Homo sapiens: one gene and its partners. The protein of the gene in region 1 interacts with the protein of each later gene in a pairwise test. Each region holds a gene or a part of one and is shown on either strand. Other genes may lie near its edges. The genes, in order: CCDC57, SLC25A48, ARID5A and GIGYF1.

Region 1 (3,906 bases):
GTGCAGTGTGTTCCGGGCGGACGGGCGTCAGTTTACGTGTGCGTTTCTCATCCTTGCAGGTACCTGGCCCCGGGCACTCAGGTGGCAGGGACATTTTGCTGTTATCCTTCGTGGGGGTGGACGTGGAAGGCCCAGCAGTGACCGCTGTCCCCGGTTGGCCCCCACCCTGCCAGCACCTGACATGCACACCCCAACCTGCATGAGGCCCAGGTGCCCACCTGGCTTCCAGGGGTCACCTTGGCCCGGTTCACTGGGATCCAAGGCTCTCACTCCTTCTGGGAGGGCCCCTCCCATGGTACTCTCAGGAGACGCCTGCTTTGTGGGTGGGCTTTCTGATCTGCCCCCTACCTGCTACCAGGCTCTGAGGAAGGCCACACTGTCCCCAACACCACTGGTGTGCAGATGGCTGTGGGTGGTGACACGGGCAGGCCAGGCTCTGGCACAGGCACTTGATACTGCATTTCCCAAGTAGGACAGATAAACAACGCTAAGGCCAAGCAGACGCCCCAGGGAGGAACCTGGTTTTAATGGGCCCTGTGCTCAGGGAGGCCTTCAGTCAGCAGGGTCGCCTCAGCAGCATTTGGGAGCCTGCCCTGCAGCTCCCTGCCTCCACCCTGCACGCTGTGCCCACACCCCCCCACAACACGTAGGTGAAAGCACAGGCACCATGCGGAGGCCCCGAGCACCCCTTAGTGGGGCGGGGTGGGGGGAGGAAGTCAGTCCATAATGTTGTAGTTACGGATCTTGGGGGGCCTCTGGCAGCCTTTAGCTTTTGCAGGATGAGACCGGGAGGCTCCTGTGGTCTTGGCCTTTGCCTGGGCTGCTGTCTTCATCCCTGGGGTGGCAATGCCTGCCTGCATCTTGACGGGCCTCCTGTCGGCTGCTGGAGGAGCTGGGAGCTCTGTCAGGTAAAGAGGAAAAAACAGCATGCATCAGGATGGCAGGGGGAGCAGGAGGCTGTGCTCACAGGCACTGCACAGGTGCAGCACTTCCGTGTTCCCGGCCAGCGGGGGCCCTGTGACCCTTGGCCTGGCTTTCCTCCAGGAGTCCGTGAAGGCCAAAGGATCCTGGAGTGACCAGAGAGCTGTGGCCTCGCCTTGCTCAGTGGGTCCTGCTTGGCAGGGACTGGGCCTGCCCCTCCACTGGGCACCTGGACATGTGGCTCTGAAAATGGTCCTGTTGTGACCATTTCGTAATGGGTCCCAGGAGGGGGCAGGGGTGCTGTGTGGTAATGGGTCCCAGGAGGGGGCAGGGGTGCTGGGGTAAATGGTTGACTCAAAGCTCCTCCCCCCAGGCTGCCCCGGGTGTCCCTACCATCTGAGACACATTGCCTGCCCCCGCCTCCCCGATGGGCCAGCAGTGCCAGGCTTTTGAGGCCAAAGGAAAGGCCGTGCTGGTGGGCACCACGTGGCCAGGCACAGGCCAAGGGCCCAGGAGTGCGCTACACACAGAGGCTGGGGCCTAAATGCCAGATAGCCCTTCCTAAACATCGGCTAAAACCATCTTCGCAGAGGGGTGTTGTAGGTGATCTTCTTTATCTGGCCAGTTTTTCTCTATTTTTCATTTTTTCAATTAAGAATGTGGGGGTTTTTTTTGGTAAAACAACAGCAAAATGTTACTAAAAATCCATGCAAGGGCTGGGCTTGGTGGCTCACGTCTGTAATCCCAGCACTTTGGGAGGCCGAGGTGGGTGGATCACCTCATGTCAGGAGTTCAAGACTAGCCTGGCCAACAATGGTGAAACGCCGTCTCTACTAAAAATACAAAAAATTAGCCGGGCACGGTGGCGGGCACCTGTAATCCCAGCTACTTAGGAGGCTGAGGCAGCGGAGTCGCTTGAACCCGGGAGGCAGAGGTTGCAGTGAGCCGAGATTGCGCCACTGCACTCCAGCCTGGGCGGACAAGGGCAAACTCTATCTCAAAAAAAAAAAAAACAAAAAAAACCCCACAGTAAGATGTGAGCTCAGCGTCCACTGCGTGGCCACACTGTGGCTGGGGTGAGGTCTAGAGGACTCCAGCACGTGGCTGAATGTGGCCCAGTGGGCAGTCTGGACAGGCTGACCCAGGCAGGTCAGCGGGCGGCCAACGCCTCCTGCTGGAGCCCAGCCTGTGTGGTCTGCGTGCAGCCTGGGTGACTGGGAAGCGTCTGTGCTTTGGGGACACCGGCAATGACGCACTCTCAGCTGGGCTGCGCAGTGCCCATGGGGGCAGCCACACACTCCCAGCCCTGGCCCTGGGCCCCTCTTCCCATCTCAGCTTCTTCCACTCCGATCCACTCTTGGGGTCTCAAGACACCCGGAACCAGTCTTCCTTTTCCTGCAGCCCCGTTGGGGTCACACAGTCCCTGGCCCCCTGCTGGGGTCCTGGGGGGCCCTGGACGCTGCCTGCTCCCTTTGTTTCCAACCCCCAGAGGAATTCCTCCTCTTCACACAAAGGCTACCACCCTTTATCTCTCAACAATAAGCCTGCCTGACCTCCTGGTCCCGGCCAACGCCCCCATCCCCACTCCCTCCCCCCACCCCCCACACTGGCTGGCAGAGGGTGGGGTATCCCGTGGAAAGGGCTTCCTGCGGGGAAGCTGGTCCTCTGACCAGGCCCTAGTGCTCCACTGTGACCCTGAGGCATCTCCTCAAACCCAGAGGCCTTGGTTGTCCCTCTGTAATGCTCAGGGATTCTGGGGGCTTTGCCCGGCTTGATCCTCCTCAGACAAAGCCTGTGGGGATTTTCAGAAAAAGTGAGCTGAGGGAGGGGGGTGAAGGGCCTGCCCCTTTGCCTGGGAGGCCTGAGCTGGCCCTGCTGGGAGGACCCTGGCTGTATCCCGGGGCGAAGCAGGGAGGTGTGAGTGGGTCACAGTCCCCGGGGCAGGGAGGGGCAGGGAGGGGCAGGGAGGGTGAGCTGGCCCCCTCCCCAGGGCAGGCCGGCCCCTAGCTCAGAATATCCACTTTACAGGCTCTGGTTTCTTCACTGGTCCTTTTCCTGCGGAGCCCTCCTCAGTGATGGTGGCAGGGAACTGGCCATGAGCCCAGGACCCCAGGGCAGCGGACAGCCCCAGCCCAGCCAGTCCTAGGTCAGAGGCACGGAGCTGGATGTGTCAAGGCGGCTGCCCCAGGCGTGACTCCCTGTGACCCCGGATTCTTCTACCTGATGCTAATCTGAGGTCAACCCAGTAACTGGTGTGTAAAAACGCTCTTGGCCTCCACCACTCTCTGCCCCGCCTTCTCGCCTGACCTGTTTTGCCGAGCCTGGCCGGGATTTCTCTTTCTGCGTTGGGCTGACTGGGCCGCAGGGAAACCATGTGGACACACAGTTTGCCGGGCACAGCGTGAGGAACGCGCCTCTTGGGTCCTGCACCCCTCCCCCACGGGCTGCTTGTGCTCTGGCCCCGAACTGAGCTTCTGGAAAGTTCCTGAAACATCCAAGGCCTTGCAGTGATTAACCAGGGGAGGGGGACTGGGGCCTGCTTGCCCCTCCCAGGCTTAACCCCTCCCAGGTCCTGGTGTGTGCTGAGGCAGGGCCACCCAGGCTGGGCTCCGTCCCCTCAGGCGGCTGCACCATACTTGGAGGGTTTTTTAAATTTTTATTTTTATTTTTGAGACGGAGTCTCACTCTGTCGCCCAGGCTGGAGTGCAGTGGCGTGATCTCAGCTCACTGCAAGCTCCGCCTCCCGGGTTCACGCCATTCTCCTGCCTCAGCCTCCCGAGTAGATGGGACTACAGGCGCCCGCCACCACGCCCCGCTAAGTTTTTTGTATTTTTAATAGAGACGGGGTTTCACCATGTTAACCAGGATGGTCTCGATCTCCTGACCTCGTGATCCACCCACCTCGGCCTCCCAAAGTGCTGGGATTACAGGTGTGGGCCACCAAGCCCGGCTTGGAGGTTTGAAGCTGGTGGAATCTCAGGGAGG
Region 2 (7,033 bases), on another chromosome or scaffold:
CCTCTCTTGGCTTCCAAAGGCCCTTCTGGCTATGGCTCTGTTTCTCTGTTCCTCATTACAGCATAGCAGAACCCTCAGAAGAGTTGTGTATACTTGGGTGCACCAATATCCTTCATCCCATTCTTTCTTTATCCCACTTCATCAGGTTTTTACACCCTTCTCTCCATCAAATGGCCCTTGCCAAAATCCCCAGTGGTCTCCACGTTGTTAAATTCAGGAGGTGGTGAGTAGCAGGTACAAAGGCCCTGTGGTCAGGGAAGGGCCAGGCATGGTCAAGTTGCAGCAGAGACCAGTGTGACTGGAGAAAGTGAGGAAGGGGAGAGGAGTAGAAGTGAGGTGGGTGGGGAACAGGGAGCTAGATCACTGAGGGCCTGGAAAACCATTGCAAAGATATCAACTTTTACCTTAAATGAAAGAAGGATGTGGTGCAGGATTCTGAGCAGGGAGGTTAAGCAACAAGTCCATGGTCACAAAATGATGAAGTGTGGATTTGAACTTAAATCTTTCTGACTGCAGAGTCCTGCTATACTGTCAGCTCCAGCTGTATGACCTGGGATTGGCTACTTAACATTTCTGGACCTGAGTTTTCTCATCTGTGAAATGGGGAAACCGATTCCTACCTTGTAGAACTAATGGCATCCTTACATTACAAAGATTGCATTTAATAAACTGAACCATGATAATGGATTTCCTTTCCAAAGCTTAGTAATGCCTGACACAGAGTATGTGTTCAAAATATATCTGTTGCCTGAAAGTCAAATGGGAACTGCCATTCTCATAGCTGCATAGGGAAGGGATGAGACTGAGGTGGGAGAGGGCCGGGGACAGAGTAGGTACCTAACAAAGAATTGTTGGGTGAGTACCTAAATGTGTCCTGCCCTCCCCCTGGGCTGAGAAGGGCATGGCAGTTCCCCAGCTGTCCCACTGCTGTGGCCTGCACAGGGGTGCGGCTCCAGCTGCTGCTGCCCTTACCTGCCATGCCGCCCGCCAGCCACACGGCACAGGGGCTGGGGCCTGTGCAGGCCTCAGGTGTGATCCACTCACTCAGGAACACGTAGGGGATGAAGTAGAGGCAATAGCCTGGGACATCCCTCAGCAGCATGGCACTGGCCCCCCGGTATAGCCCCGCCAGGCCCTCATTCCTCACAATGGTTGTAATGCAGTGCACTGGCCCCTGGTATGCTGGCTGCTCCGCAGGAGCCACTGCCCTGGACTTCAAACCGAGGTTGGCTGCAAAGACAGGGGAGAGAAGGTGGCAAGTGACCCAGGGTGTAAGAGACTGGACATTCCGTGACACTGGAGCCAGCCCAGCCCTTTGACAGTTCCCTCTCATGTAGCCCATCAGCTTTTACCAAATCTGACCTTCTTGGCAGCTCAAACCAGGATACTGAGGTCCCAACAAGAGCCCCTGCCAATATACACAGCCAGACTGGGGACGATCTCAGCCACGTGATAGAACACCAGTTACTTTAGGTCAATACCACTACTTCTTTCGAAGCAAATGTGACTTCAGAATGTCTAGAATCAATTATGACAAGCCACACTAAGCTCTTCTTTGAAGCTAGAAAATCCAACATGCTGTGTGTGTGTGTGTGTGTGTGTGTGTGTGTGTGTGTGTGTGTGTGTGTGTCTGTGTACACATTTATTTATGCACAGTGTGGCGGAGCAAAATGTATATGAGATTTGGAGCCAGACTGTCCTGGCTGCAAATCCTAGCTCTACCGCTTATTGAAAATAATTTATAAATTATACATAAAATTTAAAATCTATAATTTAATATTTATAATTTTATAAAAATAAAATAAATAATTTTATTAAAATTATTTGGAAATAATTCGAAATTTACCTTGGCAAGGCAGCATTTTCAGCCCATTTCCTTATGTTAAAAGAGGGGGAGCTTGTCATGAGTGCAAATAAGGTAATACATGTACAGTGTTCAGCATGGTGATTTGAACATTGTAGGGGCTTAAAACGTTATCAACTGAGACCAAGGTTGCTGACATGAATTGGTGGCAGGACCCACAGGTTGGAGAGCTGGGTATATTCTCAGTGACTCACTCCAGCCCTGGCCAGGCTGTGCCCTAAACAGTTGTAGGGCAGCACTGGGGCTCTTGGCCCCTCAAAGTCCTGGGACCCAGGGCTGCTATCTTCTTGTCTAACCTCAGTAGTCTATGCTGGCAGCTCAGGGGTTGTTTGTCTCCAGCTTCTTCTAGGGGTGCACATAGCCAGCTGAGACTCTGCCTCTCTCTCATTTGCTACCCATCTCCCACTCTGATGCTTGTCTTCTCTGCTACGGACCCTTCTCTGCTATGGATCCTTCTCTACTATGAGGCTTTGACTCATGACCAGACAGAACTTCCAGACCCAGTGCAGATAAAGTAGGCTCTTGTTCTTGACTTTCCCTTCTCCAGGAAATAACATAATGTGACATGACCAGGAAAGAAATAGAATAAAGTGTGTCTGCGACCACAAGCCTATTTTGCCACCTGAGTTTAATTCTCTGTACAGTGTTCCAATCTGATTTTACACATGCTGGTAAACAGGCAGACAGCTTTCATCATATAGGTCAATGTCCAAGTCCCCCAAACAGTCCATCTTTATCAGAGGAAAGGTTAGAAGCATTCGGCTTCATGACTCCACAGTCTAGAGATTGGAGAATAAAGTGTAATCTGTACTTTAACTCATCCCAGAAGCAGGTGAGGTTGAGGGGGTGGTTTCTGCGTGCCTGGGAAGTATGCTTGAACAAACCCATGCTGTATTTTCCATCTTCCAGTGGGGAAGGGAGTAAACCCCTGCCATATCCATTAGGCCAACTTCAGTGTGGACAGGAGATGGAGCCAACTTCTTCCACAGTGGATCCCATAGGAGGTGAGCCGGGGTAGTAGCCACCTTTGGGGGCACAAGACCCCTCTGAGCAAGATCAGACATGATGGCCTTTGAAAGCCCACTGAGAGATCACTAGGCACCCCTTCCTCTTCCAGACCCATGGTGCTACTGCCTGGTTCATCTGGAGAAATTCTGCCGTTAGACAGAATAGATGTCATTGTCCCAATGTATAAATTTTGCCTGAACTGCTTTCATCTCCAGGCAAAACTGACTTGACCCAGGAGTCAAGGTTTTCATGAAGCAACTATGGGTAAATAGTGGCTTTCAGGAGTTACTGACTGAGGGAGAGGATCTTGATAACATTCTGCTTGTTTGAAAGTACAGATGGGAAAACACCCACCAAACCTCCAACTGGCCTTGTCAACAAAAATCCTGTACTGTTTTCCTTTTCCCTGCGGAGTAAGCAATAAGGAAATTCTCTCTCATTCTCCCAGGTTTGCCACATAACCAATCTAGCTTTTATTGCTTTGGAATTACCCATTTATGGCTGTTAGTGCAGTATAATTATCATGGTGACTCCCATCACCAGGATACTGACACAGCTCCAAACTGACCCAAGTTTATACTGTGAAGCTCTTGGAATTCTTTCTAGCTCCTTCATTCACAATATTTTTTTTTGAAAAAACTTTTTATTTGGAAATAATTCTAAATTTGCAAAAGAAGTATAAAAAGCAAAATAGTATAAAGAATGCCCATACATACAATTTACCCAGATTTATCTATTGCTAACAATAAGCAAATAAGCTCATTTGCTTATTGTTTGTGGGTTCTCTCTCCCACTCTCTTCACTTCCCTCCCTTCTCACTCGTGTGTGTTCAATTCAACTGAATCGATATAATTGTCCCAGTGTCTAAACTTTGCCTAAGCCCCATTCATTTCCAGGTAAGAGTGACCTGACCAGGAGTCAAGGTTTTCATGAATCAGCTATGGGTATGATGTGGCTTTCAGGAGTTATTGATTGAAAGAGGGGATTCTGGTAACATTGTGTCTGCTTGGAGGTGCAGATGTTGCAAAAACACCTGTCAAACCTTGAACTGACTTTGGCAACAAGACCCAAACTTATCCTTTTTCTTCTTTTCTTCCCAAGGTAAGCAATAGGGAATGTGTGTGTGTGTGTGTGTGTGTGTATGTGTGTGTGTGTGTATACACATAGATGTATTTTTACACATTCATACATAACTTCATTTTCTAAACTATTTCTGGGTGAGTTACATACTTGAAGAGTCTTTACCCCTAAATATGTTGAAAAATATTTCCTAAGAATGGAGATATTGTCTTATATAACTATAGCACAATTACCAGTTTCATATAGCTACTTTGACAATACTTTAATCTACCATCTATGATCAAATTGTCATTTGATCTTCATGCATGCCCTTTATAGCATTTTCCCCTCCAGGACAGGATCCAGTGCTTCAATCTGGAACATTTCCATAGCCTTTCTTTGTTTCTTGTGACACTGACATTTTTTAAGAGTACACAACCCCTCTGCTTGTTAATAGAGCTTTCCTGATTCGGGGTTTGTCTGACATTTCCTTATTACATTGTGGTCATGCATTCTTGGCTGGACCTCCTCCCCATTCTTAAGTCTCATTCTCAAAAGCCCCTGTTCTCCTCCTCTGGCCTCTTATTTTTGTTTTTTGTCAGTTTGTCTTTTAATTGAACTATACTTTGTATTCAATAAAAGGTAAAGCTTTCAAGTGCACGATTGATGAGTTTTTACAATTGCATTCACCTATGTCATCACACTCTACAATGGAAGTGACTTCTCATATTTGAAATAAACTGTTTTGTTTACAGCCCAGTTAGGGAGAGCAGTGATTCCACAGCCTAACTATCCTCTCCTGATTTTCAAGGTAAAACAACTCTGTGATATCATGAGGTGTCACTCATTGAGAAGCAACCTTTCTCTGGGGCAGTGGTTGTAACTTACAAGTCCATCAGCACTAGCACTACCAATAGTGGTATGGATGATTCATATTGGGTCCACAGAGCAGAATGTCATCAAAGGTAGTTATTATAATTCCAAGCATAAATATACCTGAGATAAAAATGCACCACACCACCACCATTGGTGAGGCCCAAAGTCCAACAAACCTAACATGATGATGCACTTATAGTAATACTGATTTTCAATTCAACAGCAAGAGTAGGAGCCATAGAAAACTATGACCAGTATAAGATAGCCCTGCTGATGAATAAACAGAAGAGCCTTCTTCTGGAAAACAGCAGAAATCTCCGCCAGTGGCCCATGTGGTGCTAAGTGCTCTCTGGCTTGTGGGGGTGGCAGAGCCGGGGGGTTGCCAGGAGCCTCAGCAGATAGCCTCAGGAAAACACTGGATCGGAGTTCTTGGTACTCTGATACCATGGGACCAATTTTAGTTTGTGAAAACCCAATTTTGATGACTCTTAAAAGCTGATTTGAAAAGTTACTGGTAAGTCAGTCTTGGAAATATGCACAACTGAGATCTCTGGACTTGCAAGTCCTTTGTCCAAGGAACCTGAGGAAGACTACGAGGTGCCGGATCAGGACACAGCTCACAGGAAACTGCCAACTCCCAGCCCATTGTTTCTGAACCTTCAGGGTGTACATGCATATGCGAAAGGATTGGCATTAGATATATATCCTTCTCAAGCGAAGTGTACCTAATTTCTCTAATTAGAATTTTTTATTCTGTAATGAGGATTAAAACATTAATCAAATTTTGATCTTTTTAAAATCATGAATGCTTTGCATTTGAGACCAACTTTTGCTGCCTCTCTAGATCAAGGGCATACTACCTTTTATTAGGATAGATATGGATTACGTACCTCAAAAACTGCTGCCTCTCTAGATCAAGGGCATACTACCTTTTATTAGGATAGATAGAGATTATGTACCTCAAAAACTCAGGAGGCATGTGGTTTCCTTCATTTCCCCAACTTCAGTTAGGGCTATCTCAGGCCCCCTGCACCTATGTAACCAAGACTAGCAAGATGTTCAAAGTCAATGAAAATAGCAACCCACTGCCGTAGGAAGTGGAGGAGGGCCCAGGCCTCCTGCCTTGTCCAGCTCAGTCCCGGCCAGCACACCTAAAGCCACAGGCCATGGCTATCTGGCTCTGCAGCTCTCTGTGAAGTGCCAGTGCCTTACTGCTGGCCTCCTGTTTGGCCTGGGAGGTCCCTTAGAGGTAGATGCCTCTTCAGGGAGTTTTATTTTGGGGTGTGGTGGTTGTAGGTCCAGGTTTGGCCAATCCTAACAGGTACCAATACAGCCATCTCTTAGGGGACATCCAACTTCAGAAGGGCTGAGCTGGGCTGGACACAGACAGGAGACACCAGCTCTACCACTATTGCCCCTTTTCCAGAACCCAGGGACCCAGCCACAGAAAGTCACTGTGCCTTCCTCAGACACAAACACAAAGATGTTCCATTTATTTTCCTTTCTCAGTCAATGCTATTCAATGTCTTCAATGGGCCATGACCTTGGAAACAGTAAGGCCAGCAGAAACACAATGGCTGGCCACTGAGGGGAGCAGGGCTGGCCCTCAGGAGCACAAAGGCCTGGCCACTCTCTGGAAGGGAAAGTGCTCCCAGCCTCCTCTGCTGTGTGGGTATGTCGGTATGTGGGTGGTGGGACAGGGAACACAGCATAATTTCTCAAGAGGCCACTTTCTACAGAAAATCCTTCACAAATCAGCCATCCACAAATGAGGCCCTATGGGTCACTAGTCAGGGATGTGTGGGTTTTCACGAGGGTTCTATTCCAGTAAGGCTCAGCCAGTGGGAGTCATTTCAAGGCACCCCACAATCCATGAGCATTATGCATTGACAGAATTCCTACAATGTCTCACACATACATATGTGCCCATTTTTCTCATATGTGTGGGTACTATCACAGGTAACACAATAAGATTTTACTTAAACATATTAGTAATCCATAGTAGCTTCCTTACATATTTGTTTTCTTAGTCCACGAACTCTTAAAAGTACAGCTGCTGTTCGATGGGTTGGACCACATTTTCCATATTAACAAGGCGCTCTTAGAAAAAGGTCCCCACAGCCCATGCCTGAGGCTGTGCCCCCTAGTATGGCTTGCCTCTGTTGCTACTGTTTTCTGAGTGTGTTGTTTTGCCCTTAGTGTGGCGGTGAGTTTCCTGATGACAGG
Region 3 (7,033 bases), on another chromosome or scaffold:
TAACTGCCCTAATAAGGCCACATGCTCTCCTCACCTACAAGGGTCCTGGTGACCCCTCAGGTCTCTGCTGACAAGTGCCTTCCTCTGGGTGGCCTCCTCTGGCCCCTGGCCACGGGCAGCTCCTCCCTCGCCCTAGGCTACTCACAGCCATCCTGGCTGAACTGCCTGTGGCTCCTGGGGCTCCCTGATAGTTCGGTGAGGCTTCCCATACCCCACACAGCAGGTGCCAAGCTGGAATGAGCAAGGCTCACAACAACCCTGCGTGGTGGGCAGGAGAAGCCATGGGCTGTATTTTACTAAGAACCACCATGTGCTGATGGTTGCAAAAACGCAACACCTCTGCCACTGCAAAAACCACAACCACTGGAAACTGCCTGAGGCCACACAGCAGGCTGGCAGCAGATACCAGACCAGGAACCCACATCTTCTGACAACCTTTTCTTTCTGTCCTTTGTTCTTTTGTTAATCAAGTATGAATTGGTTCACTCCCTCCCAGGACATCCTTATTGTTAGGAACCTATGAGATTTCCCTTCCATCCCAGACAGAAAAAGAATCTCCTCAGGAACAAGAAACCCAAACCAGCGTAAGCCAGGGGCCAGTGGTACTCAGAGGCACAGGGTAGAATCCTTGGCCACTGAGTGGTCCTGCTTTGGTAGGTGTTCTTATGTCTTCCCTCCATGTTGATGGCTGCTGACTGATTTCAGGGTGGTGGTTTCTTGGGCTGGGGTGACTGTGGCAATTTCTTAAAATAAGACAACAATGAAGTTTGCCACATCCATTAACTCTTTTTTTTTTTTTGAGTCAGAATCTTGCTCTGTTGCCCAGGCTGGAGTGCAGTGGCGTGATCTTGGCTCACTGCAATCTTCGCCTCCCAGGTTCAAGTGATTCTCCTGCCTCAGCCTCCCGAGTAGCTGGGACTACAGGTGCGTGCCACTAAGCCCGGCTAATTTTTGTATTTTTAGTAGAGACGGGGTTTCACCATATTGGCCAGACTGGTCTCAAACTCCTGACCTCATGATCCACCCACCTCGGCCTCCCAAAGTGCTGGGATTACAGGCATGAGCCACTGCACCTGGCAACTCTTCCTTTCATGAAAGACTTCTCCATGGCATGCATGTGATGCTATTTTTGACAGCATTTTATCCACAGCAAAACTTTCAAAACTGATGTCCCTCCTCTCAAACCCTGCTGCTGCTTTATCAACTAAGTTTCTGTAACATTCTAAATCCTTTGTTGTCATTTTGACAATGTTCACAGCATCTTCGCCAGTAGATTCCACCTCAAGAAGCCACTTTAGGATGGGCGCGGTGGCTCACGCCTGTAATCCCAGCACTTTGGGGGCCAAGGTGGGTGGATCACCTGAGGTCAGAAGTTTGAGACCAGCCTGGCCAACGTGGCGAAACCCTGTCTCTACTAAAAACACAAAAGTCAGCTGGGTGTGGTGGCAGGTCCCAGTAGTCCCAGCAACTCAGGAGGCTGAGGCAGGAGAATCCTTTGAACCTAGGAGGCGGAGGCTGCAGTGAGCTGAGATTACTCCACTGTACTCCAGTCTGGGCGATGGAACAAGACTCTGTCTCAAAAAAAAAAAAAAAAAAGAAAAAGAAAAAGAAAAGAAAAGGAAAGAAAAAAAAAGAAGAAAAAAAGTCACTTTCTTTGCCCACCCATAAAAAGCAACTCCTCATCCACTCAAGTTTGATCATGAGATTGCAGCAATTCAGTCTCATCCTCAAGCTCTGCTTTCTAACTCTAGTTCTCTTGCTGGTTCCACTGCATCTGCAGTGTCTTCTCCACTGAAGTCTTGAAGCCCTCAAAGTCATCCAGGAAGGTTGGAATCAAATTCTCCCAAATGCTTGGATATTTTGACCTCCTCCCACGAACCACAAATGTACCTGAAATGCTCTCCGGAGGTTTTCAATGTATTTTGCCCATCAGAGGAATCACTATCTATGGCAGCTACAGTCTTACAAAATGTATTTCTTAAATAATAAGACTTGAAACTTAAAATTACTCCTTGATCCTTGGCTCTAGAATAAATGTTGTGCTAGTAGGCATGAAAACAACATGCAGCTCCTGGTACATTTTCATCAGCGCTCTTGCATGACCGGTTGCCTTGTCAATGAACAATAATATTTTGAAAGGAATCCTTTTTTCTGAGCAGTAGGTCTCAACAGTTGGCTTAAAATACTCAGTAAACCATGTTATAAACAGATGTGCTGTCATCCAGGCTTTGTTATTTCATTTTTAGAACACAGAGTGAGTAGATTTAGCATAATTCTTAAAGGTTCTAGGTTTTTTGGAATGATAAATGAGCACAGGCTTCAACTTAAAGTCACCAGTACCAGCTGCATTAGCCCCTAACAAGAGAGTCAGCCTGTCTTTTGAAGCCATGCATTGACTTCTCCTTAGCTATGAAAGTCCTAGATGACATCTTCTTCTGATACAAAGCTGTTTCATCTACATGGAAAATCTGTGGTAGTGTGGCCACCTTCATCAGTGATCTTAGCTGGATCTTCTGGATAAATTGCTGCAGCTTCTACACCAGCCCTGGTTGATTCGCCTTGCACTTTTATGTGATGGTGATGGCGTCTTTCCTTAAACCTCATGAAGCAACCTCTGCTAGCTTCCAACTTTTCTTCTGCAGCTTCCTCACCTCTCTCAGCCTTCACAGCATTGGAGATTTAGAGCCTTGGTCTGGATTAGGCTTTGTCTTAAGGGAATGTTATGGCTTGTTGGATCTTCTATCCAGACTTCTCAAACTTTCTCCATTATCAGCAATAAGGCTGTTTTGCTTTACCATGCGTGTTCACTGGAATAGCACTTCTGATTTCCTTCAATAACTTTTCCTTGGCATTCACAACTTGACAAACTGGTGCAAGAGGCCTAGCTTTCGGCCTATCTGGGCTTTCGACCTGCCTTCCTCACTAAGTTTAATTATTTCTAGTTTTTTTATTTAAAAGTAAAGACCTGTAACTCCTCCTTTCACTTGAACACTTAAAGACCATTGTAGGACTGTTAATTGGCCCAGTTTCAATATTGTTGTGCCTTAGGCAACAGGGAGGCCAAAGAAGAGAAAGAGAGGAAGAGAGATGGGGAATGCTGGTCGATGGAGCAGGTGGAGGAGGAGCACACACAACATTTATCGATTTAGTTCACTGTCTTTGTGGGTGGGGTTCATGGTACCCCAAAACAATGACAATAGGAACATCAAAGATCACTGATCACAGATCACCATAACAGATATAATAATGAAAAAGTTTGAAATGTTGTAAGAATCACCAAAATGTGACACCGAGACACAAAGTGAGCACGTGCTGTTAAAAAATGGCATCGATAGACTTGCTCGATGCTGGGTTGCCACAAACCTTCAATGAGTAAAAAATGCTGTATTTGTGAAGTACAATAAAGCAAAGCATGATAGAGCAAGGTGTGCCTGTACATTCTCTCCCTCAGTCCCGGAGGAATTCCATTTTAAAGAGGGGGAATCTGAAGCCAGAATGGTTATGGGTAAGTTGCTTGCCTCCCTGGGGGACCAGGATTCAAAACAAAGTCTGATTCTGGTCCAGTGGCTGCTGTGGTTATCAACATTTGCAAGGCCTTCATGAAGAGTCCAAGTAAGCCTGGAGAGAAACCAGTCCTAAGGCTTGTCAAAGAGAAAGAGACCAGGGCCACCCTCTTGGGCTAGCCTCTGACCCACCAGTCTCCAGAAATCCTGGGTACTAACAAGTGACCCAGCAGACTGATGCCTTTCCAACCAAGTCCTCTGTGACTCTGTGCTTCAGTCTTCCCTGCTATGAAATGGGAGAGGAAGATCCTTGAGTTCTTTGCTAGCTATCCGTGAATTCCTGAAGTCTTCCAGGTCCAGAAGCACCTCCTCCACTGGCTCTTCTCCCACTGCCTGCTACCCTCAGCTCACACATCCCCTCCCCTCATTCCTGCTGCCCCAGAGCCTCAGCATCGACAGACCCTCTCCATGTCTTCCTTGGTGTGACTGGGGCTTCTTAAGTCACAGACTTGCTATGTGACCCTTGGCAAGTCGCTGCACCTTGGGCTTCAGAAAAATACAGTGGTTAGACAGGGCCCATCAGAATCACCTGGAGGAGCATAATGCTCCGGCCCCATCCTCAGAGTCTGATTTAAGGTCCAAGGTGGGGCAGCAGGGTTTAAAGCTCCCCAGGGCATCCCAGTGGGCAGCCAGGTTGTGAGCCACAGGGCGAGAGGGGCCCTAGTCCCTTCTGCATGGTTCAGAGTTTGCAAGCTCTGCCTGGACCACACCAGGGGAAAATCTCCTGGAGTTGGGTGCTCGTGTTACCTGGAAAGGAGGTCACCAATCCGAGCTGTTTAACCCCAGATGGGAAAGGGATTAGAGCTGTTCGCCTTAAGCCACAAAGGGAAACATTCTATCTCTGTGTCCAGCTGAGTCCCCAGATGAACTCGGTCTCCATTCTCAGGGTTAGTGCTCTGTCCTGCCAGGGCCCTCTGGGTTGCAGGCCTTTGGGCCCCCTCTTCTGCAGCATTAGATGAGCAAGAAGGGAGAGTCCTCTCCCCCTTGGTCTCCAGGGTGCCCTCTGTCTTGTCCCTGGCTGCCCTAATCCCTCCCTTTCCCTGATCATTCACAGATCAGGGTTATATTTGTAAAAGGGGTTCTGCTATAAAAAATAAGCTTGAAACCCGCTGCCATAGATGTTGGGCCATGCAGGTCCAGCGTTGGGAGGTAGAGAGCTGGGAGCCAGGCAGGCAGGACCTGCATGGTGGGGTGGGCCCTCTCCTGGCTCTGTGGAGGAGGGAAAAGGCTTATGGAGCTGGAGGCCCCGTCTCCCAGCCCCACTCAGCCCACAGAGGCAGGAGAAACCCACTTGCCCCTGATAGCTGCTGCTGCTGCTGTGAGCCACCGCACTACTGCCTTGTTCCCAGCCTGTGTGTGCAGATTCTTTTCTGGCACAATGCCTTACATGTTTTATTTGTAACAGAAGTGGGGGATCAAATGCAAAAAAGAAAACTGCTCTCCATAAGAATGTCATCCAGACTTCACCTTTCTCCATCCAGCAAGCAATAATGATGATGATGGTGATTATTGTCTCATTACTCACTTGTAACACATCTGGAATCTATTCCAGTATACAGGATGAAATAGGGATCCTAGCCATACTTTCCCCTCATTGGTTGGGGGCCCCAGTGAGTAGCCTCCTCCTCCAATGGTGTAAAATGCTACTTTCCCCATAATGTCAGTGCTTATAAGGAACACATCTGGGACTATTTCTGGACTTTCTATTCTGTCTCATCCACAGTGGGATGCTAGGACCTGTGCACACTGTTTTAATTTTTGTAGCTTTATAAAACAACTTACTATCCAGAGGGCAAGTTGCCCAATATTACTCATCTTTTAAAAATATTCCATTTGAACTTTGGGATAATTCTGTTACATTCCCTTTAAAAAAAAACAAAAACAAAAACACTTTGGGAGGCCGAGGCGGGCAGATCATGAGGTCAAGAGATCGAGACCATCCTGGCCAACATGGTGAAACCTCGTCTCTACTAAAAATACAAAAATTAGCTGGGGGTGGTGGCGCATGCCTGTAGTCCCAGCTACTCAGGAGGCTGAGGCAGGAGAATCGCTTGAACCCAGGAGGTGGAGGTTGCAGTGAGCTGAGCTCGCGCCACTGCATTCCAGCCTGGCGACAGAGCGAGATTCCTTCTCAAAAAAAAAAAAGGCCAGGTGCGGTGGCTCACGCCTGTAATCCTGGCACTTTGGGAGGCCAAGGCAGGCAGATCACTTGAGGTAAGGAGCTCGAGACCAGCCTGGCCAACATGGTGAAACCCCATCTCCACTACAAATACAAAAATTAGTGGGCGTGGTGGCACACGCCAATAATCCCAGCTACTCGGGAGGCTGAGGCAGGAGAATTGCTTGAACCCAGGAGGTGGAGGTTGCAGTGAGCTGAGATTAGGCCACTGCACTCCAGCCTGGGTGACAGAGACTCCGTCTCCAAAACAAACAAACAAACAAACAAAAAACCCCCACTACTGGGGCTTTGATTGCATTTAAATTTAGAAACTACTTTGAGGAGAAATAATACCTTTACAGTATTGCATCTTTCTTTTCAGGACCATGTGTCTCCATAATTCAGGTTTCCCTCTGCAGTCCTCAGAAGTTCCTTCTTAAAAAGCCCCTGTGCTTTCTTGGGGAGGTTTATTCCTAGTTTGTTCCTTGAGTTTTGTGCAGCTAGAAAATGGTGTTAGAAAAACCCTGATAACAGTAGTTCACTCCACAAAAGCCCCCCTGCGATTTCCTCATTTCACTGCTGGGAAGAGGGCCGAGGCAGGCTAGGTGGCTGCGCCAGAAGATGAGCCTGGGCTCCTAGTGACCCAGTCCCTTACTAAGCAGAGAGGGGGTGCGGCAGGGTGCTGGGCAGGAGGATTGCCTGAGGCTCTTCCTGTGCTATGAGTCTGATTTCTTTCCAACTCCATAGCTCCTGTCTGAGTCAAGCTCAACTCCCAGATCCTAAAACTCCAGCACTGAAGATGTTAGTCTGTCACTGCCTCCAGTAGAGGATGCTCCCATAGGTCTACTTGTTCTCAAGTTACATGCTCCACCGACTCAAATCAGTGCCCTGGCTGGTGTGGGCTAGGCATCTCATACAACATTGCATTGCTGAATCTTCCCAGCCATCCAGATATAACAGATATAATGTCTGAGGCTCAGAGAGGTTCAGTAACTTGCCTGGGGCCACAGAGCTTATCCATGGCAGAGCTGGGATTCAGAACCAGGGTAGTCTGACTCCTGAGAGACGCTGATCCCTGAGAGCTAGAGATTTTTTTCTTTCTAATGGGAGCAGGGAGACCTCAAGTTCCTTATCTGTGCTCAGAGGATGCAAACTTGTCCCCTTTCCCCAAGTAGATGTGCAGTTTCCCAGCACATCGCTCCTGTCACTCTGCTAACAAGAGCAGGTCTGTGTTGACTGCTAAGGCATCCAGGCTCAGGGATGGGAGGGGGCTGGTCAGAGAGCTGGGCAGCAGCGGGGAGAGGGGGAGGGC
Region 4 (7,033 bases), on another chromosome or scaffold:
GGAGAAACTGCTGGTGCTGCAGCTGCTGGTACAAGGCCGCCGCGGCCAGCTCCTGTTGCTTCTTCAGCCGCTCCTGGTCCATGTTTCCCTGCTCAGGTGAGAGCTCGGCCAGTGCCCCCAGCAGGGAGGAGGGGACTCTGCTGGACTCCTGCCGGCACCCCTCACACCCTGTCCCTCCATGCAGGGGAGAAGCGGCTCACCAGCAGTGGGGGAGGTGAGGGCCCTGGGGCAAAGGGCACGCGGCCCCACATCTTGATCACCTCGCCCAGCGGCTGGAAGCCCTCATCGCAGCCCCGCTTCACCAGCAGTGACATGGAAAAGTAGCCGGCCTGGAACCACTCTGCCATCTCCTGTGTCGTGAAGGGGCCTGGACAGGGAGCGAGGGAGCGGGAGAACCACTGGGGTCACAGGGTATGCCAGAGACACCCTGAACCAGAACGGCCTTGAGCAGCCCTCCCATCCCACACAGGTACCTTGGATCTCGCCCTGTGGGTCCTTGTAGAACCACTTCCGGGCAGCCCCATGGCTGAGCGGGAGGGCAGTGGCGGCTGCAGAGTGGCGCAGGCCCTGGGTCTGCATGGCAGCCGTGAACTGCTCCTCCTCCAAGGAGCTGTCCTGCAGGGAGGCCACCAGCTTCTCCGCCTCCTGGATGCCCAGAAAAAGAAGAAAGGCTCAGCTGCCAATCTCAGCAACATCAGGATGGGGATGGGGATGGAGCTTGAGCTGGGGCCGGGGCTGGGGCCAAGCAGGTCAGGTCAGAAGTGGGAAGGGTCCCTCCCGCTTTCTCAGGCCCCCACACCTGCTGCAGGTGCTTCAAGCCTTCATCATCCTCCAGATCTCCGGGTGGGCCAGCAGAGGAGCCCACCCCGGGACTCAGCTGGATCCCCCGAATATCATCTGGAAGGCATGAGATAGGAGGTGGAAAGAAGGGCGGGGAGGAGACAAGATAGCTTTCGCCTACTCTCACTCCAGAACACCACGCTCTTGCCATGGCTCCTCAATGTGAATGCCCTGTGTGCCCACCCCCACGAGTGGGGAGCACTTTCTCCCACAGCCCCAGCGCACCCGGGAGGTAGGCCATCCTCCCTTCCTACCTTCGGCCGCTGGGGGCTCTTTCTCTGCAGTTTCGTCCCCATCCCCGTTTGTCCCCCAGAGTGGGCCCAGGGTGGGCAGTGGGGATGGGGAGCTGGACTTCTCCTCCTGAGGAGGCAGTGGGGTCAGCTCTTTCCCACCTAGAAGAGGGAGATGGCCAGAGTTCAGAACCAAGGGCTGGGCCTGCCACGCGAGTTAGCACAAGCCCTTGAGTGTGGCTGGAACCGCGGGTCACACTCCCTTAGGCCGAGTCCACCACTTCACTTGGGTCAACTCAACTAATGGCAGAGGGAATGCGGTGCCCTGACCCTCGCCTCCACGCTGCCAGACGCGGCAGGAACATATCACAACATCGCACAACACCACACAACACCGCAGACGTCACTCCAGGTTCTACAGCTTCTTCAAGGGACTTTCAAAGGTCATTTTGATTACGCCTGATTTCTATCTGGTACACTGCCTTGAAGACATGGCTCTGCTACCCCCTGGTTCCTCCCCACCTCTCAGCACTCTTCTTCCAGATCTAAGTAGCCTGATTCTACAGGTAGGTGGGCAGCCAATGCCCAGCCCGGCAAAGAACACCAGTGCCTGCCCGGCCCAGCCCCAGGCCCGCTGGGCACCCCGCGGCTCACCTGCCTCAGGCCCTTCCTCCTCTAGCCCTTCGGAAGGTTCCTCCTCCTCCTCCAACCCTTGGAAGTCCAGCTCCTGCTCCTCAGGAATGGGCTCCTTGGGGCCCTTCTGCATGGGGCCGGGGTGGGGAGCAGAGAACAGCTGGGGTGGGTGGGGAGGAAGAGGACCCCGGAAGGGCAGGTTCCCACCCTCGCCTCCTCACAGATACCTTGAGAGGCAAGAAGGCCCCAGAGGCATCAAAGGTGCCCATTTCTTCATCCTCATCGTCCAGGCACCACTCTGGGAGCCCATCCTTGTCCTCCTCAAAGCCTTCAGGCGCTCGGCACCGCCGCAGGTGAGAGCTGCCTCCCCCTCCCCGCCCCTCCTCTTCACCACACCCTCCTCGATCCCCTCGCAAATCAAATTCAAACTTGCGCCGCCGTTCCCCATGTTCCCGCCAGCCAGCAGAGCGGGGACCACCATCTGCACAGGAAAAGTCAGGGAGAAGAAGAGTGGGTACCCAAGCGAAGCCAGCGGCCCCCTCTGCTGCAGCTCACGGAGCACCTCCAGGGCTGCTGTCCCGGCCACTCCCACACCAGCCAGCCTCTGCTCCCTCCCCGTGGCTACAGGAGCCCACCCTCTCATTACAGTTCCTGCTCCCCACTGCCCCCGCCAATGCTACCAGGCCCCAATCTCACCAGGGCTGGCGGAGCGCCAGCGGTCGCCGTCTCGCCGGGGCCCTGCTCCGAGCCTCCAGCTGCCCTCCTCCTCCTCCTCCTGTTCCTCCCGTAGGGAGCGCCAGTTCTCGCTGTCTGAGCGGGCGTGCTCCTTCCTTGGGCCAGCCCCTCCCTCCTCAAAGCCACATCGTGCTGGGAGACGGGAAGACAGGGGCAGTTATTAGAAAGGCAGCGTGGTGCCTGGACCCTCAAGAAACGTTGGGGGGGCCAGCTCCAGGCCCTCCTGCCCCCAACACCTCCGAAATAAGCACCCCCAGACTGGGCCACCCATCTTGGTCCTCCCTGCCGCCCCGGCCGCCGCCCTCAGCAGCCTCGTACCTCCATCCCGCCTTGCTGACTTCTCAAACCGCCTCTCGCCTCTGCAGCAGGGGAAACGTGTGGGTCAGAAACAGTACAGCCTCCCCTGCCACCCTGTGCAACCGCCCCATGCCTTGTCCACTGTGCCCTGAGGCAGTGGAGGGAGGAAGGGGACAAACGAAACCAGGGGTCAGGAGCACCGGGATCTCGGACAGGGCTTATCTGGTGGGCCTCTGTTACCCTCTAGCGACAGGGCCCAGGCCTCCCCTCCCTGGCCTGCCCGGCTCTGCGCCATGCCCCCTCCCCGCCCCACCTGTCATCCCAGCTCTGGCTGCGCTGGATTTCCCGGGGGCTTCGTCCAAAGGCCCCATCGCCTTCTTCGATGCTTCTTTGGTAAAAGCAGCTGTCACCACGGCCGCGGCCTAGAGAAGAGGCCAGACGCACAATGAAACCTGCTGCACGTTCTCGAAGTCAGGGGCCCAGATCTGCCCGTCCCCAGGACACGCCATCACCCCTCTACCTCGGCTCCGCGTGCTGCCCCTGCCTCGGGAGGTGCCAGCCAGGGGGGGGCCAGCCCCTTTCCCCATCAGCCTCAGCACAGCCACGCTGTTCACTGACAGGGAGAAGTTTCTCTGAGGAGGGAGCCAGGGGCGGGAGTGAGGACCCAGGCACCCAACCACCTCCACCCCCACCCCACAGCACCCTCCCCGCCTGTCTCCTCAGCGCTGGCCCCTCTCCTCCTAACCCAACCCATGGCCTCCCCTCCCAGGCTCCCGCAGCCTCAGCTCCTGGCCCGGTCCCACCTGTTCCTCCTCAGTCAGCGGCTCCAGAGCCAGGGGCTGCAGTGGCTCGTCCTGCAGCACCGCGGCGAACTCCTTGTCCTGCAGCTCTTCCGGGACCTGGCAGTGGGTTGGGACAGCCAAGACACCACATGCTGCCAGATCCCCTCCACAGGCAGAGGCCACCACCGCCAACCCCCCTCGCCCACGCACCCACCTTGTTCTCCTTGACGTAGAGAGCCAGCATTTCCTCTCGCCCATAACGGTAGTCAGCCAGCTTGTATTTGGGCATGGCAGGGGACGGGGGTGGGGAGGCCACGCTGCCGCCCCCGGACAGGGCCCTGAGCCTGGACACAACACAGAGAGAAGAAGACAGAGGTCAGGGCAGCCTGACTGTGCTTTCTCGAATCTCCACGGCAGCCGAGGCACAAGTGACTCACCACTCAGGCCCAAAGTTGAGTGTCTCTGCTGCCATCGTGGGGCTGGGCGTGTTTGAGAGGCCGGGGGTGGGGAGGAGGGGACCTGGCGTTCACTGTCCAAACACCTGTGGGGGAACAGGGGCCATGAAGAACAGCACACGAAGGAGAACTTTAAAGCGCAGGGAGGACACCATGGGGGACATCCTAGTGGGCACAACAATGGGCCCCGGACTAGCTGGTGGGTCACCTGGGGTCTAAAAGGACTCACCTGAGCCAGCCACGTGGCCACTCACACCATGAGTTACCCAGAGATGAGTCCAGACGGTGAAAGACCTGGGGGAGGCGAGGAGATGGGAAGCTCGAGTCCTTTCGGCCTCAGCAGGGCAACCACCCTTGGCCCGGGGCTCACCTGGCAGCCTGGCCCGGGAAGAAGGAGGGCAGGGGCTGGTGCTGGAGTGAACGAGGGTACCCAAGCCACTGGGAATTGGTCTGACCTCAGTAGAGCCTGGGAGGGACCTTCACATCTGGGAAAGACCCTTAAGGAGAGCAGGGGGGAGGAGGGAGGGTTCAGGACATGGCTCTGCCGGCAGCCCTGCCCTGCCCCGCATGACAGGAGAGGTCCATTCGCCGGATGGTGTCTCTGGGCATCAGCACCCTCGCCACCCTCTCTGGGAGGCTGAGACAGGAGGTGTAGTGAAGAACTCGGGGAGGGAGGCAGCCGAGGCCAGGATGGACGTTCAGGGCAAAGATAAAACAAAAACAAGCAAGCAAACAAAAACCCACTAGAGCCACAAATAGCTTACAGAGAAAAGGTCAGTTACGGAGAAAAGGATTAGAAATAAATCTAGGAGCAAAATTCTTTCCCTCATGAAAAAAATCAGTTGGCTGCTCAGAAGCTCAAATCCAGGGGCTTGGTCTGGGGAGAAACCCAGTGAAAAGGAGCAGGAGGTGACTCTAGGGCCACAGACGGGTACACGACAAGGACTCCAGGCAGGCAAGCCTGAGCCAAGGCACCTCGGGCTGGTTTCCCCCACAGGAATCACACCCAGACCACCGCCCCCAATCAATAATGGAGGCTTAAACAACCAAGCCACCAAGGGAACGAGGATCTCAGGATACCAGCTGGGAAGCAGCCTCTGGCACCATCAGGTGGAAATAAGGTCAGGGCAATGGAGGCTGATGGGGGCGCGGCGGCAGCCTGTTCCTCTAAGGGAGGATGGAGGGGACTTTCAGGAGGAGGCGCATCCCTGGGGCCCCAGGCAGAGGACTCAAGCGGGTGGGCGGGGTCCAGGTGCTGCGGTGTTGTCACTGGCTGGGAGGGAGGCTGGCCCGGCTTGGTGCTGCAGCTCCCATCAACTCCAGGACGCCACAGTCTGGGAAAGAAGAGGAAGCGGGTTCAACCAGGGTGCTGAGGAGGAAAGGCCATCAGCCCCAGCTGAGCCAGCAGCCCATGACAAGCCGAGGCCTGCTCAGAGTCCAGGCACTCCAGGGGGAAACACCGGGCTCAGAGGCAACCCAAGGCCAGGCTGGCCTCCCCTGGGACCTCTCCTTCCTCTGCCTCGGCTGGATGCTCCAGTGGTGGTGTGTTCCATGACATGAAAAGCCACCAGCCTGTCACTGACTGCAGGTGGCCACCTAGAGCAATCTGGGGACTGGATGAGCCTTGAGGACATCACGCTAAGAGAAACACACCAGCCAAAAAAGGAGAGCTACCCCTTACTTCTCTTTCATGAGGTCTCTAGAGCAGTCACTCATTGAGGGAGGAAGGTAGAAGGGCAGCCACCAGGGGCTGAGGGGACAGGGAGCTGTTGCTGAAGGGTCCAGAGCCTCAACTGAGGAGGGGATCCTGGGGCCGCTGGTGGTCATGGCCGCACACCAATGTGAGTGTACTTAGTAACACAGAATGGCACAATTAGAGACAGTTAAAGTCTCCAAATTTTGTTGTATATTTTACCACAATAATCATTTTTTTAAAAAAGCTTTAGGGAACAAAAGGTATCTGGAGATAACCACCGCATACCTAAGTTTTCCCCACTCCAAGAAAAACACCCCACATTCCTTCAAATCAGCCTCAGGAGAGGCCATTTTGGGCCTCCTCCAGTTCATTCCTTCTAGAAGGCCAGAAGCTCATCCTGGAGGCATGAGGGTGGGAGAGAGTAGAACAGAAAAGGGACCACCTGGCCAGCACAATGGCTTATGCCTATAATCCCAGCACTGTGGGAGGCTTGAAGAGAGGAGTCCGAGACCAGCCTGAGTAACAGAACAAGACCACGACTCTACAGAAACAATTCTAAACATTTTTTAAAAAAGAAAAAGTGGCCAGGCGTGGTGGTTCATGCCTGTAATCCCAGCACTTTGGGAGGCCAAGGCAGCCAGATCACCTGAGGTCAGGAGTTTGAGACCAGCCTGGCCAACGTGGCAAAACCCTGTCTCTACTAAAAATACAAAAATTAGCCAGTCCTGGTGGTAGGTGCCTCTAATCCCAGCTACTCGGGAGGCTGAGGCAGGAGAATCGCTTGAACCCAGGAGGCGGAGGTTGCAGTGAGCTGAGATTGCGCCCCTGCACTCCAGCCTGGGCAACAGAGCAAGACTCTGTCTCAAAAAAAAAAAAAAAAAAAAATTTAAAGCGATGGCCTCACACTGCCCCCTGCCAGGCGCAGCAAGGGCAGCTCTCCTAGGTGCCTCCGGCTCAAGTCACCCATCCTGGCTGTGTCTTGGCTGCAAGGGGCACACAAAGGGGGAATGGTTCATGCAGACTGAGGACAGCGACACCAAGACAGGGGAGAGAGCAGGCCCAGAGCAGGAAAAAGCCCATGCCACCCGCCTTCTTGGGAAGAAACCAGGAGAGTGAGGTTAACTCTCTAGGCACCCCCACAGCAGGGTCTGGTGCCGGAAGCTGATGGTGCCTGGCCCCTTCCTTGGACTAAAGGAACTAGTGGCACACCTGCAGGCCACCATGGGGCTCCCACCCTCCAACAGGTTCTGGACTGGGGGCACCTCTGCTCCTCAGGGGGCTCTTGGCCAAGTCTAGAGACATTCTGGGTTGTCACCACTGGGCAGGGGGTGCACAGGGCAGCCCCACAGCCAAGAGCTATGTGAC

What was found.
Region 2: the proteins of CCDC57 (region 1) and SLC25A48 interact in binary tests that used the Homo sapiens proteins (3 or more experiments, as listed by UniProt).
Region 3: the proteins of CCDC57 (region 1) and ARID5A interact in binary tests that used the Homo sapiens proteins (3 or more experiments, as listed by UniProt).
Region 4: the proteins of CCDC57 (region 1) and GIGYF1 interact in binary tests that used the Homo sapiens proteins (3 or more experiments, as listed by UniProt).

Annotation. Positions count from the first base shown.
Region 1 is NC_000017.11:82,100,966-82,104,871, forward strand, and holds the end of CCDC57 (coiled-coil domain-containing protein 57), read right to left. Parts: intron 902-3,906; coding exon 717-901; 3' UTR 505-716; downstream 1-504. UniProt on the Homo sapiens protein: Pleiotropic regulator of centriole duplication, mitosis, and ciliogenesis. Critical interface between centrosome and microtubule-mediated cellular processes. Centriole duplication protein required for recruitment of CEP63, CEP152, and PLK4 to the centrosome.
Region 2 is NC_000005.10:135,865,658-135,872,690, reverse strand, and holds part of SLC25A48 (solute carrier family 25 member 48), read right to left. Parts: intron 1,231-7,033; coding exon 973-1,230; intron 1-972.
Region 3 is NC_000002.12:96,539,720-96,546,752, reverse strand, and holds part of ARID5A (AT-rich interactive domain-containing protein 5A), read right to left. Parts: exon of another isoform or gene 6,110-7,033; coding exon of another isoform or gene 6,076-6,109; intron 1-6,075. UniProt on the Homo sapiens protein: DNA-binding protein that may regulate transcription and act as a repressor by binding to AT-rich stretches in the promoter region of target genes.
Region 4 is NC_000007.14:100,684,250-100,691,282, forward strand, and holds part of GIGYF1 (GRB10-interacting GYF protein 1), read right to left. Parts: intron 5,307-7,033; 5' UTR 4,343-5,306; intron 4,267-4,342; 5' UTR 4,202-4,266; intron 4,059-4,201; 5' UTR 3,990-4,058; coding exon 3,955-3,989; intron 3,862-3,954; coding exon 3,732-3,861; intron 3,635-3,731; coding exon 3,539-3,634; intron 3,368-3,538; coding exon 3,256-3,367; intron 3,158-3,255; coding exon 3,049-3,157; intron 2,798-3,048; coding exon 2,757-2,797; intron 2,571-2,756; coding exon 2,400-2,570; intron 2,185-2,399; coding exon 1,931-2,184; intron 1,831-1,930; coding exon 1,725-1,830; intron 1,233-1,724; coding exon 1,095-1,232; intron 898-1,094; coding exon 800-897; intron 646-799; coding exon 474-645; intron 368-473; coding exon 201-367; intron 92-200; exon of another isoform or gene 89-91; coding exon 1-88. UniProt on the Homo sapiens protein: May act cooperatively with GRB10 to regulate tyrosine kinase receptor signaling. May increase IGF1 receptor phosphorylation under IGF1 stimulation as well as phosphorylation of IRS1 and SHC1.